4 linked regions of the Homo sapiens genome follow. The protein of the gene in region 1 interacts with the protein of each later gene in a pairwise test. Each region holds a gene or a part of one and is shown in the gene's direction. Other genes may lie near its edges.

The links. Proteins that work in one complex are often made in the same cells at the same time.
Region 2: the proteins of ZNF417 (region 1) and LZTS1 interact in binary tests that used the Homo sapiens proteins (3 or more experiments, as listed by UniProt).
Region 3: the proteins of ZNF417 (region 1) and splicing factor U2AF 35 kDa subunit-like protein interact in binary tests that used the Homo sapiens proteins (3 or more experiments, as listed by UniProt).
Region 4: the proteins of ZNF417 (region 1) and LMO1 interact in binary tests that used the Homo sapiens proteins (3 or more experiments, as listed by UniProt).

Annotation. Positions count from the first base shown.
Region 1 is NC_000019.10:57,910,093-57,913,592, reverse strand, and holds part of ZNF417 (zinc finger protein 417), read left to right. Parts: intron 1-1,403; coding exon 1,404-1,533; intron 1,534-3,478; coding exon 3,479-3,500. UniProt on the Homo sapiens protein: May be involved in transcriptional regulation.
Region 2 is NC_000008.11:20,255,464-20,258,963, reverse strand, and holds part of LZTS1 (leucine zipper putative tumor suppressor 1), read left to right. Parts: intron 1-3,500. UniProt on the Homo sapiens protein: Involved in the regulation of cell growth. May stabilize the active CDC2-cyclin B1 complex and thereby contribute to the regulation of the cell cycle and the prevention of uncontrolled cell proliferation. May act as a tumor suppressor.
Region 3 is NC_000021.9:6,484,123-6,486,685, reverse strand, and holds the end of splicing factor U2AF 35 kDa subunit-like protein, read left to right. Parts: intron 1-230; coding exon 231-364; intron 365-455; coding exon 456-548; intron 549-1,769; coding exon 1,770-1,917; 3' UTR 1,918-2,063; downstream 2,064-2,563. UniProt on the Homo sapiens protein: Plays a critical role in both constitutive and enhancer-dependent splicing by mediating protein-protein interactions and protein-RNA interactions required for accurate 3'-splice site selection. Recruits U2 snRNP to the branch point.
Region 4 is NC_000011.10:8,257,379-8,260,878, reverse strand, and holds part of LMO1 (rhombotin-1), read left to right. Parts: intron 1-3,500. UniProt on the Homo sapiens protein: May be involved in gene regulation within neural lineage cells potentially by direct DNA binding or by binding to other transcription factors.

The DNA of each region.
Region 1 (3,500 bases):
ATTCATAAACGTTTTGAGATGACTTTGGGAGTGCCTGGAGAGTTTCATTCAGCTTGGTGCATGTGGGCAGTGAAAAATATGCTCATCTGTGATAGTAGATGTGGTTTGGTTCACAAATCCAGGGGCTGGGCTTTAAACAGCATTAGATGGACAGAGGAGGGTTGCTACAGCTGAGGTCTCAGCTGGTGCAGCACAAAAGTGAAATAGGTCCATGGATATCTGAAGCCATATGTGGTTCTGTGTGGCTATGGAGTCATTCCGGGAGACGTTCACAGGATGATTTGGGATTACCACTGCTATTGTAAACCATGGAAATTCTGTGTTAATATTGGATCCTATTTGTATTTGTCAAGCATAGTCTGGATGCTTATCCACATTTTGGTATAAGGCCAGAATTGAAGGCCCAATATGATGTGTCACTTTGACATCTTGTGAAAGTGGGACAACCTTAAAAGGTGTGAGTACAAATCTCATTCCCACTCTGCTCTCTTGAATAATGTATCCTAGCCTAACAGCCCGTTTTATCAAGGTGATAAGGCAGGGTTCCAGGTTGTTATATTTTGTGGTGGGTTTCAATTCCATCCCTACCAGCAGAGTTATGGAAACAAACCATTGCATATTCCCAAGGGAATCATGGGCCGTTATACCCTCTTCATCTTGTGAAATAATTTTATTTGTGGGGGCTGGGTGCAGTGACCCACCCCTGTAATCTCACTTTTGGAGGCCAAGGCGGATGGATCACTTGAGACCAGGAGCTCAAGACCAGCCTGGCCAACATGGTGAAACCCCCTCTCTACCAAAAAAAAAAATACAAAAATTAGCCGGGTATAGTGGTGCGTGGCTGTAATCCCGGCTACTTGGGAGGCTGAGGCACGAGAATCACTTGAACCCAGGAGGCGGAGGCTGCAAAGAGCCAAGATCATGCCACTGCACTCCAGCCTGGGTGACAGAGCTAGACTATGTCTCAAAAAAAACCCCAAAAAACAAAGTTCTATTTGTGGGGATGCCAGAGAGAGGCTGATGGTAGGGAAAACTCAGGTAGGGGTGGCCATGGGGATGTGTCTTTGCAGTATAAAGAATGATGTATATTTAGAGAGGGAGTTTGTCCAATGGGCTCAGGCAGCTGCCCTGGGCTTTACATGAGCTTGGATATCGCTATTCAGAAGGGGATGGACCTTTTTATGTCAGGACCTCAGCATGGATACCTATTTGTCCACTTACTGCTTATTGCTGATGGCAATTGACCAGTGGGCCCATGAAGAGACAAAGGCACTAGTGGACATAGTTTCAACACTATGTTGGGGACCTTGGGAGGAGGATGGGCAAGTGTGGGTGTGTGGGAGAGGTGGGTTGTGGTACCTCAGCAGAGGGGCTGTTTGTGGTTTCATCTGTCACTATCATAGCAGGGCACTGTGACCTTTGAAGATGTGGCTGTGAACTTTTCCCAGGAGGAGTGGTGTCTTCTTAGTGAGGCTCAGAGGTGCTTGTACCGTGATGTGATGCTAGAGAACCTGGCTCTCATATCCTCGCTGGGTAAGTTGCTCACGCTCACCTTTGTGACCTGAGCTAGTGTTACTGTTCCCCTGTTTTTCATTGACAGGACTGTCTTTCTCACTTAAGGAGCCTGGACACAGGTTCCTTCTACACTTCTCTATGTAAGTTGTGTGTATTGCCTTTTCCTTTCCTTAAGCACCTCCAACACCTGCTTTGCTCCAGGCTCCCAGGGAAGGAGTCAGAGTCAGGAGTCTAATAGGCACCTAAGTGTATCCACTTTGCCTGCTCTCTGGCTGTCAGGTGACTGTCCAAATCGGTAGCTCTTGTGTGCCCAGGTTCTATTAACACTTCCTTCCTCTATCTGACAATGCTTTGTGCCTCCCTGTGCCAAGAATTGCCTTCATTGACATTGTCACTACCTACATAGACCATAGACCATAGACTCTTCTTGCAAGACCCTGCTTAGGAATTCTTTTGTAATACTTACCTTACTCTCCTGTGGGCTGTCAGGTGCTTAGTTGTCCTGAGCTAGTGTTGGCTGTTCATCTCTGCTGTCTCTCCCTTCATAGTTACATCGTCGGGTCCTATGTACTGGGTGTGAGATGGAGAGACCTCCATGTTTGACAAGATGTGGTTCAATTCAGGCTCATCACGATAGGCTCAAAGGGAGCCTGTCCCTCAGGAGTGCCATGCTGGGGGAGGGCATGACTTCAGGGGTTTATCCAAATCATACCAGAAACCATTTATATTTGCCAAGTGTTTTTGTGGCAATATGAGTAGGCACACACTATTTGTCTTTTTCTCCCCATTGTTGAGAGTTTCACACGTGTTAGTTCTGTACCTTTTCACTTCTACTGTGATATCCACCCCAGCACTAATACTCACATCTCACCCATTTTTCTTGTGCTTTCATCTGCACTTGTCTCTGATATTGGTGTATCGATTACATATTAGGAAGTGTATGCCCTATGTTAAACCATCCATGACCACCCTCTGCTGTGTTGTACTCATGTTTTCTTGGTCTTGACATATGCTTCTATATTTATATTTTTTGAGATGGAGTTTCGCTCTTGTTGCCCAAGCTGGAGTGCAATGGCACAATCTTGGCTCATTGCAACCTCTGCTTCCCAGGTTGAAGTGATTTTCCTGCCTCAGCCGCCCAAGTAGCTGGGATTACAGGCCTGCACCACCACACCTAGCTAATTTTTTCTTTTTTTAGTAGACACAGGGTTTCACCGTGTTAGCCAGGCTCGTCTCCAACTACTGAACTCAGGTTATCCACTTGCCTCACCCTTGCAAAGTGCTGGGATTACAGGCATGAGCCACCGCGCCCAGTCCATATGCTTCTACATAGCACTCACATGTCATTAGGAGATAAGGTCCCGTACACAACTTGTGTTTAGAGGAAGGAGCTGTGGACCCTGCCTCTACTCCCTGTGTTGCCTGTATGCTTGTGCTCTTTACATCATGAGGCCTCCTGGATTCTGTGACCTTTATAGCCCAGTAATGCTAGGCAGCTCATTCTTCTTTTTATTATTATTATTATTATTTTGAGATGGAGTCTCGCTCTGTTATCCAGGCTGCAGTGCAGTGGTGCGATCATGGCTCAATGCAAACCTCCACCTCCCGGGTTCAAATGATTCTCCTGCCTCAGCCTCCCGAGTGGCTGGGATTACAGGCGCTCACCACCACATCCAGCTAATTTTTGTATTTTTAGTAGAGATGGGTTTTCACCATGTTGGTCACGCTGGTCTCGAACTTCTGACCTCAGGTGATCCACCCGCCTCAGCCTCCCAAAGTGCTGGGATTACAGGCGTGAGCCACTGCGCCCGGCCAGCAGCCCCATCTTCAACTTGAAGCCAACATTGTGTTCCTGCAAATATTTCTATAGATTAATTCCTCAATTTGTGAGACGTACTTGTGGGTGGGCTGTGCCTTCCCGTCAGAGGTACTTTGCACTTGACCAGCATTTTCTTGCTCTCAGGTTGTTGGTGTGGATCAAAAGA
Region 2 (3,500 bases), on another chromosome or scaffold:
GGATGAAAACACATTTTGTCAGTGTCAAGTTTATATCAGCAGAGCCACCCTGTGCTCCTAAGTCACACCTCGCAGGAATGGGAGGCAGAAAGGTTGCATTTAGAAGGAAAGGATTAGCTCTGGAAAGTGAGTTTGGACATTGAGGCTCCCCAGATCCATAGGGATGATGGATGTTGGCAAGGACAATGGTCACAATATAAGTAACAGATACCGATAACACTGCCTAGCATTTATTGAGTGCCCACTATGTACTAAGTATTGAGTAAATGTTCCAGAGCTGTTATCTTATGGTGGTATTTCTTAAATTTCTCATAACGATCCTATGAGGTAGGCTGCTTCACTGTATTTCCTCGAGTATACAAAGCCATCAATTCAATAAAAGCTTTTCACATCAAAACATATTAAACTTACACAACGAAGTTTTGTTGTGTCATGCTTTTCCTAACAAAATATAGAACATATTCATAACATAACCTCTTTATTCTTCAGGATGATAACGCAAGTTTGAATCGAAGCCTAGATATTCAGAGTCACAGAGTCTCCATGCACAACTGCTAATTGTAAAAAATATATATATAATAAAATTAAAATTAAAAAACAGAGTCAGAAAGTTTCTGGCTCCCTTTCAGCTGTGCCCATGCAGTTCTCCATGTCCCACCTGGGATTTCTTTAGCCCCTTTAGGATGGATGGTATAATTTAGAGCTCAGCGAAGAACAGAGGCTCCTTCCACATCTCCTGTTTTATTAAACTTGTGGCTTTCCCCTTCTTAATTGGATATCTGTCTTTTGACTAAGAAATACTTCACAGTGCATGACAATCACCAACCTTTCCTAGCTTTGAAAATTGTGTGATCTAAACTTAGAGATTTGCCTGAATCTGCACATGTGCTGGCACTGACATCCCAATTTCTCCTGTCTGGTGACTGACAAGGTTGTTATTGTTTAAGCATTGATTATTAGATGCTATCCTATTACTTTAAAAAAAAAATGTGCCCAGTCCGGTGGCTCACGCCTATAATCCCGGCACTTTGGGAGGCCTAGGCAGGTGGATCACCTGAGGTCAGGAGTTCGAGACCAGCCTGGCCAACATGGGAAAACCCCATCTCTACTAAAAATACAAAGATTAGCCAGCCAGTCATGGTGGTGCTCACCTGTAATCCCAGCTATGTGGGAGACTGAGGTGGGAGAATCATTTGAACCCGCGAGGTGGAGGTTGCAGTGAGCCAAGATCATGCCACTGCACTCCAGCCTGGGCAACAGAGTGAGACTCTATCTCAAAAAAAAAAAAAAAAAAAGTTTAAGGGTGTCTTAGAATTAGTTTGTAACACTGAAGGTTAAAGATATTAAACAGTTTACCTTCCATGTCATAGCTGGCAGGTGATGTAACTAGAATGCACACCAAGTCGGCTGGGTACTTCTCAACATTAAGGCTGTAATGACTTTCTCCTTCTTTCTCTCTTGAATCTTCTCAATGAGGCCTTCCTTCCACCATTCCTCCAAAACTGCTCTTGTCAAGGTTACCAAAGATCTCCACATGGCCAAATGCATTGACTAATTCTCAATTGTTATCTTACTTTCAGCAGCACTTGACAACTTTTTTTTTTGAGACAGGAACTCAGTCTGTTGCCCAGGCTGGAGTGCAGTGGCGTGATCTCAGCTCACTGCAACCTCCGCCTCCTGGGTTCAAGCTATTCTCATGCCTCAGCTTCCTCAGTAGCTGGGACTACAGGTGCGTGCCACCATGCCCAATTTGCCTGGCTAATTTTTTATATTTTTAGTAGAGACGGGGTTCCACCATGTTAGCCAGGCTGGTTTCAAACCCTTGACCTCAAGTGATCTGCCCACCTTGGCCTCCCAAAGTGCTGGGATTACAGGCTTGAGCCATTGCGCCTGGCCATTTGACACCATTTTTAGGAAACAATTTCTTGACTTGGCTTTCTTAGGTCTTCTATATCGACATCACCCTGAAAACCTTCTCTGCTGCTCTTTTTCACTTCTCCTAACCTGCCTGACCTCCAGATGCCGAGTGCTCCATGTTAACCATCCTCAGGCCTCTCTTGTCTTTCTGCATCCGCTCTTTGGTGACCCCATCTAGTCTCATAGCCACTTCCACACTCCCAGCTCTGACAAGTGCATCTGCAGCTCCCAGCAGCTGCCCACTCACCCTCCTGCCTACTCTCCATCACTCCCTGGATGCCAAATAGGCTTTGCAAACTGAATGTCTTCAACCAAACTCCTCTCTTTGGCATTGTCCCTGACTCCTCTCTTTCGCTCACTCCCTACATCTGATCCTTTAGCAAGTCCTGTCAGCTCAACCTCAAAATTACATTGAAAACTGTTTTTTAGAGACAGGGTCTCACTGTGTTGCCCAGGCTGGTCTTGAACTCCTGGCCTCAAGTGATCCTCCTGCCTTGGCCTCCCAAAATGCTGGGATTACAGACGTGAGCCACCACCACATCTAAATCCACAACTACCACCCTAGACTATTAGCCTGTAATTGGCCACCACTTCTATCCCCCGTCTCCTCAATAAGCTTCTTCCCCACCCGGAAGCCAGAGTGACCTTCCCCAACCTAAGGCAGATCAAGGTGTCAGCTGCTTAAAGCCATCCAGGGGCTCCTTGTCTCAACCCAAGCAAAGCCAGAGCTCTTTGAGCTGCACAGCCTCCTTGTTCTCTGATGTCTGCTGGCTCCTGGTTTCTGTTTCTCCTTCCCAGCCTTGCTAATTGTTCTCCAGCCAGGCTGCTTCCCATGTGGGTCTCACACAGCCAAGCCCCCTCTGCCTCAGGGACTCAGGCTTTTATACTTGGGGTTTCTTCTGGTACCCCTCTCCCCCTAGATTTTCATATGACTTGCACCTCATTTTCTTTTCTTCTTCTTCTTTTTTTTTTTTTTTTTTTTTTTTGAGTCAGGCCCAGGCTGGAGTGCAGTGGCACAATTGTGGCTCACTGCAGCCTTGATCCCCGGGGCTCAGACGATTCTCCCACCTCACCCTCCCAAGTAGCTGGGATTACAGGTGTGCACCACTACGCCCGGCTAATTTTTGTATTTTTAGTAGAAATGGGGTTTCTCTAAGTTGCACAGGCTGGTCTCGAACTCCTGGACTCAAGCAATCTGCCCACCTCAGCCTCCCAGAGTGCTGGGATTACAGGTGTGAACCATCATGCCTGGCTGCCCCCTCATTTTCTTGAAGCCTTTTAAAATGCTACCCTAACAAAAGAAGACCTTCCTGCATAAAACAGCCACCTCCCAGAATTCTGTTCTGTCCTCTCTGCTCCAGTTTCCCCCGCAGCACTGGTACCCGCAGCACTGGTACCCGCAGCACTGGTACCACTTGCTATAGTATACATTGGTTTGCTTCTGGCCTCTCCACACCACTGTAACCCTAAGTTCCAGGAATGCAGGGACTGTGACTGTTTTAGTCACTTGCTGGGTCCCGAGTGTTTAGAGTAGAGGCTTGCATGAAGTGGGCTCCCAGTGAATGTTTGTTGAATTATCAGAC
Region 3 (2,563 bases), on another chromosome or scaffold:
TGCTCCTTTAACCAGTTGAATTTGAAAAATGAAGGCAACATTTGGCAAAATCTTGGACTATCTTGAAGTTAATCTCATTGAAAATAAAGGATTTTTCAATTATCCTGTAATACTATTCCACCTTACTATACCTGAGTGTGTATATCTCTCTCTGATACATACTTGGATTGGTAATTGAGAAAGTCTTATTAAAGCGTGGATGGCAAGCACTTCTGTTTTTGTCTTTTCAGTTTCGCCGTGAGGAAGATGCGGAAAAGGCTGTGATTGACTTGAATAACCGTTGGTTTAATGGACAGCCGATCCACGCCGAGCTGTCACCCGTGACGGACTTCAGAGAAGCCTGCTGCCGTCAGTATGAGATGGGGTGAGTGAGGAGTGGCCAGTGACGTGACTGAGCACAGTTCGGGGCCGTGTGCACACGAGGTAGTAAATGTCTCCTTCCAACCCACCCACAGAGAATGCACACGAGGCGGCTTCTGCAACTTCATGCATTTGAAGCCCATTTCCAGAGAGCTGCGGCGGGAGCTGTATGGCCGCCGTCGCAAGAAGTGAGTATTCCTGTGCCCGTTGTTAAGCTCAGTGGCTTCTTTCTCCCCTCACAACCCTCCCCCTTCCAAAAAAAAAATTTTGGCATAGGTGTTGTTTCTGTTTTTTAAAAGGCAGTGCTTAGAACATAGTACATATTTTTAAATATCCAAATGTCCTCTTTGGAGAAGAATATTCACCTGCACACAGGTAACTTCATTATCCAACTTCTCAAGTAGAGATCAGATCTTAGTAATCAAGCAAGAGGGCGGTTAGCTGGGCAGCCGCGGACATGAGGCTCGTGGTGAAAGTGGGCATGCAGTTTATTCTCCCAGATATTACGAAGAAGAAGAATAGATGTTGTAACCTCCTTTAGATCAGGGATGGCTTCCCTGGGACACATTGGAAGAAGAATTGTCTTGGGTCACAAATAAAATACACTAATGATAGCTGATAACTTTTTTTTTAATTGCAAAAAAAATCTCATAATGTTTTAAGCAAGTTGATGAATTTGTGTTGGGCTGCAGGTTGGACAAGCTTTTGCTTTACATATTTCACATGTCCACTGGGGTTTCTTTTGGTTTTGCTTGTTGGTTTTAGGGCATTTCATTATGTCTTGGGATCGCTGGCATCCTCCCTTCGGGACACTGGCAGAATCAGGCCCAGCGGTCACATCTCTCTGATCCTACATTTAAATGTACGACAGGTCACAGAGCAGAGAAAATCAAGACGTCAGAATCGAACCGATTGAGTTCTGAGTCTGGAGAGGTTCTCATCCCTCTTCTGTTAAACATGGACTAGTAAATAGATGGGTGGCGATTGTTTTATTGTCAGCATTCAAGAAGCATAAGAGAAAAACAGGCCTGCTCTCCCCAGCCCAAAAACCTGATGGACACAGTAGCTATGAGCGCCTGAAGCGTGGGGTCAGTGAGGGTTGAAGATGGTATGTGTCCAGCTCATTTTGATTATGATTTCCTGTGACCATTTGAGTTGGTTCTAGAAGAAGACAGAAGATGCAAGGTATTACACCTGTTCACTTCTAAGTTGCACATTTTTTTCTCCTGAAACTTTTCACACCTGAAATCAGGGTGTGTCTCAGTCACGGCGTGCAGTCTCTTCAGCAGTGTTTTTCCTTATCAGTGCCGTTGGCTTGAGGAGCTGCGCGTGTTGAGAGAGTGGGTGTGGTTCTGTGCTGCGTGCCGTGGTTTGGATGGCACGGTTTTCTTTATTTTCCTTGGTTGCAGGCATAGATCAAGATCCCGATCCCGGGAGCGTCGTTCTCGGTCTAGAGACCGTGGTCGTGGCGGTGGCGGTGGCGGTGGTGGAGGTGGCGGCGGACGGGAGCGTGACAGGAGGCGGTCGAGAGATCGTGAAAGATCTGGGCGATTCTGAGCCATGCCATTTTTACCTTATGTCTGCTAGAAAGTGTTGTAGTTGATTGACCAAACCAGTTCATAAGGGGAATTTTTTTTAAAAAACAACAAAAAAAAAAACATACAAAGATGGGTTTCTGAATAAAATTTGTAGTGATAACAGTATTCTTGGTGTAACTTATTTCTTGTGGAAGTTCTTTAAATTTCTTTTTCTTTATAAATCTGCTAGTCATCTTGGAGGTAAAGATTAATATCCATCCACCACTTTGAGTATAAATGAAATAATATTTTTTATCTTAGGGCATGAAATAAAACACATACCAGGTGAGATCTACATGCTAAATAATCCGGAATTTCTCGAGGCTGTCATGGAAAGCCTTTTGGGGTTTCTTTTCTAACTGGTTAGTGAAGAAGTGCTTAGCTATAATCAGTAGACACGCTGTAGACTGCACTGATGTTGGGAAGAAGGCTGATCTGTGGTGAGACACAGTGGGTGGGCCCGACCCATGTTACCTTCTCGTTCCTGCGAGTTTGTGTCAAGAACCCCATGTGTTCGTGGGAGGGAGCGTGGATGCTCACACGGCACACTGAGGGCCAGTAGTCCGTGTCCGTGTTTCCTTATGCCAATGGCTGTGGGAGACACAGAAGCCTGCGGTGCAGATCCG
Region 4 (3,500 bases), on another chromosome or scaffold:
CCCAAAGGGTGCGTTCCCTGCATACGGCACCTTTTGTCTGGCTGCAGCAGGGACTCAGGGCTGCTATTAACCACCCCCAACGCCTTTTCTCCACCTGACAGCATCTTGTCTGGAGAGGCTGGGGCTCCTCTGGTTGAAGTCGGGTCTGCCAGCTGCCGAGGACCAAAGCTCCCGCTCTGCTGGGCTGCAGGGCTTTCATGTTGCACTTCTGAAAGATAATAAAATATCAATCGTTTTGCCGTAGCAACGGGTTTAAGAGACTTTCTGAAGTATTGAATCGTCAGAAAAAAAAAATTTTTTTTTGCTTTTAAGCACAGTGCATTATTAATAAAGTAATCCATTAGGTCGAGCAGTGAAGGGTCACCACAGAGACGGAAAGATCTGTTTTGCAAACGGTTAAACTTCGGGTTTTAAGATTAATTGCTTTCATTTGGATGCTTGCTCTTGGCCTAGCCATCTCCACTTTACTGGAACTCAGGGTCCGGGCTTTCTACATGCTGCTGGGTCTGCCTGTCAGCGAAATGGAACTGAGCTCCAACTTTCCCGGAGAAACAGCCCTTCTTCCCCTGGCACCTGCGGCTTGGGCTGGCACCAGGTGGTGAGCTTTTTGGGAGGGTTAAAATCCCAAGGGAGCAAGGAGAGCTACAGCTCTGAATGCTACCCAAGTCAAATGAGCCCCTGGGCTGTTCGAGAAGAGGCCTTTGAGTAGGAGCAGACAGCAGAGAGTCTGAGAGGGCCCAAGAACAGTGAGAGCTTTGGTCTGTGGGGGACTGGGCAGGAGAGGAGGCTGGGGCATCCAGCTGGGGATGCTGGGATGCTCTCAGGTGCACACAGGAGAAGGGCAGGGCTGGGTATAAACGGCCTTTGCAAAGGCCCAGCAGGAAGGTGGGGGTGACCACAGGAAGCAGCAGGCGGGTTGTGGAACTAAACACCAGACATGATTCCTAGGGCATTTTTAATAAGTAAAAATGCCCAAGAGAGTGAAGCTGGACTGAGGAGGACCAGACAGCGGAGTCTTCAATTGTTAATGACTGCTAGGAGCACAAATTCCACAGCCGACTCAGTTAATCCACCAGAGCCGGCGCATGGCTATGCTTGGGTACCAACCAGCCCTTGCTGGGCCACCAGTAGGATTTCCTAGGATAGACACTCATGTTCTAGACCACAGAGAATCCCAGGGGCCTCTCCTGGCAGAGTGTGCTCATGACCGTCCCAACCCTGGAGAGGGAGGCAGGCCCTGATGCTGTTCCATGCCAGAGACCCCAGCCCATCAGCAGGAAGGCGGAGCCAAGTGGACACTGCTGCCTGCTGAGGCCTGGTAAAGGCCTTGTGAGTCTGGCAGGGTGGGGACCAAATTGTGCACTTGCCCAGTGCCTAGAAGCAGGGGAGCGGGAGGGTTACCATCTGCATCTACCATGACCAGCCCCAGCGGCAGCCCTCCTTTCTGCTGGGAATGAGGCATCACATCCTGAGCTGCACATACAGCCGCTTCCCCTTCCTGCCCAAACTTAGCCAGGCAGAGTGTCTGTAAAGATGGGTAACCCGCCCCCCAACCCCACACACACACCCGAGCCTTGGGTGAAGAAGCAGGTGCTTCTCTCTGTTCCCTGCTCTTCCATTCATTTGCTCACACAGAGCAGCACTAAGGGGGGACAGGGAAACAACATAAATTGGTCTGTCGTCCGGAATCCATGTCTCGCTAATGTACCCAGATTAACTCAACTGTAAATTGTCTCCTTGGATGGCGGTGTCTTGCTAAAAGTTTCCCATATGATTCATGATTTGGATTGCTTTTAACGGCTATTGGCTAAGCAAGCCAGTGACTGTACAAGGTGATGCAATTGGCATTAGCGAGGGGAGGCACGGGAGCGTGTAATGCAGTCAATACTGCATTAACTACTGATGCCCAATTACAGGGAGCAGGAGAGAGCCTTTCAGGAGCATTAGGACTGGGGGAAGCTGAGATCACTGGCCGCTGCTCGCCTAAAAGCTTCACCCTTTGGATGCCGGGGCTCAGTGCTGGCATGACCACTCACTTGGCCTCTGTGGCTGTGGGAACTGCCTTTTTCTCTTGCTGTCTGTTTCTGAACATGTCCTCAAAGATGCCTTTAGCACATGAAAATGTATGTTTCCCTAGAGCTGGGACCCGCTTCTCATCCCTCCCGAGTAATTGATTCCTTACCCCCACCCTGTGTCACCCTGTGTCTCAGAGTCAGACCAGGCAGCTGCCCCATAAGCTTCCATTTAAGGAACTTCACAGCAGGCTCTATTTGTGGGCAGGACCAAGAGGAGGTCTATTTTGGTCTCTCAACCTTGGAACAGATGGATGATTGCCAGTGAGCACTGGCAGTTGACTCCCTGTGGTCATGGGCAAAGGAAACACGAGGTTCAGCCATGGCCCAGGGCGAAGCTGCCAGAGTTGGGAAGTGGCCATGGCTAGACGGGCTGGGCTGTCTGAGCAGAAGACAGAGCCGTGATGGTGCAGCTAGGGAAGGCTGGGGGTGAGTGCCTTGAGCCACGTTGGGGTCTAGAGCAGATGCAGGCCCAGGGAGTTAGGAGCTCCCTCCAGAGCTGTGCCCCCATATAGCAGGGAGGCCAAGGCTGTTGTTGGATCCATCTCCAGGGTCCAGAGGGCCTCCCAGAAAGCCCTGATCAGGGACATTGAGAAGATTGGAAGATGTTAGGGCAGAAGGTAGAGGTGTCCCAGTGTGCCAGGCACTGTTTGACTTGTTGCCACCTCTATCATTGCACTAAGCTATGTAGGTCCAATATGTCCACTGTGATTTTGTGTTCCATGTCCACCCAGTGTAGAGGTTGCTTTGCTTCCAAACCTTTGCCTCTCTACCTTCTCGTCTCTACAGTGAGAACAGCCATATCTAATTGGCAGGATTGTATTCAGGATTAAGTGAGGTACTGTCCATGTACACATTTGATAAGCCAGAAAGCCTCATGGCTGTGTGGAGCAACATTGCTCCATGCTCAGTTACAGTATGATCTGAAATAACTCTGTGTCCAGTCCAGTGCTTTGTTTGCTGGCAAGCACTGGGCCTGCACCCTCACTCTGCCAGTTTATTTATCATGGTCCTTAATCATTGCTGCCTGGGAGGCAGGCTGACCTCACTACTCGCCCACGTCCAGATCACCAAGACAGGTGGCACCTTGGGAAGAGGTCTCTAGGACCACTCTTTGCAAGTTCCTCCATTTATAGGGGGAAGGTTGAGGTTTAAACAGGGCAAAAGGGCTGCCTAGGGTTCCATGGGGAATTGGAGCCTAGAGCATCAGCATCTTTTTGCCATGCCTTCTGCCCTAGCCCTGAGGCGTGATGAGGCTAGGTGGTAGAAAACTCTGATTACAGCAAACATCAGCTGGACTGGGACCACGGACCACGTGCTTGGGTGTCCCAGTTATGCCCCTTGCCAGCCTACTGACAGCCCAGAAGATGCAGTTCTATCCTCAGATGTAAGGTGAAAGGTGCTGAGGGACACTCACCTGTCCTGGGC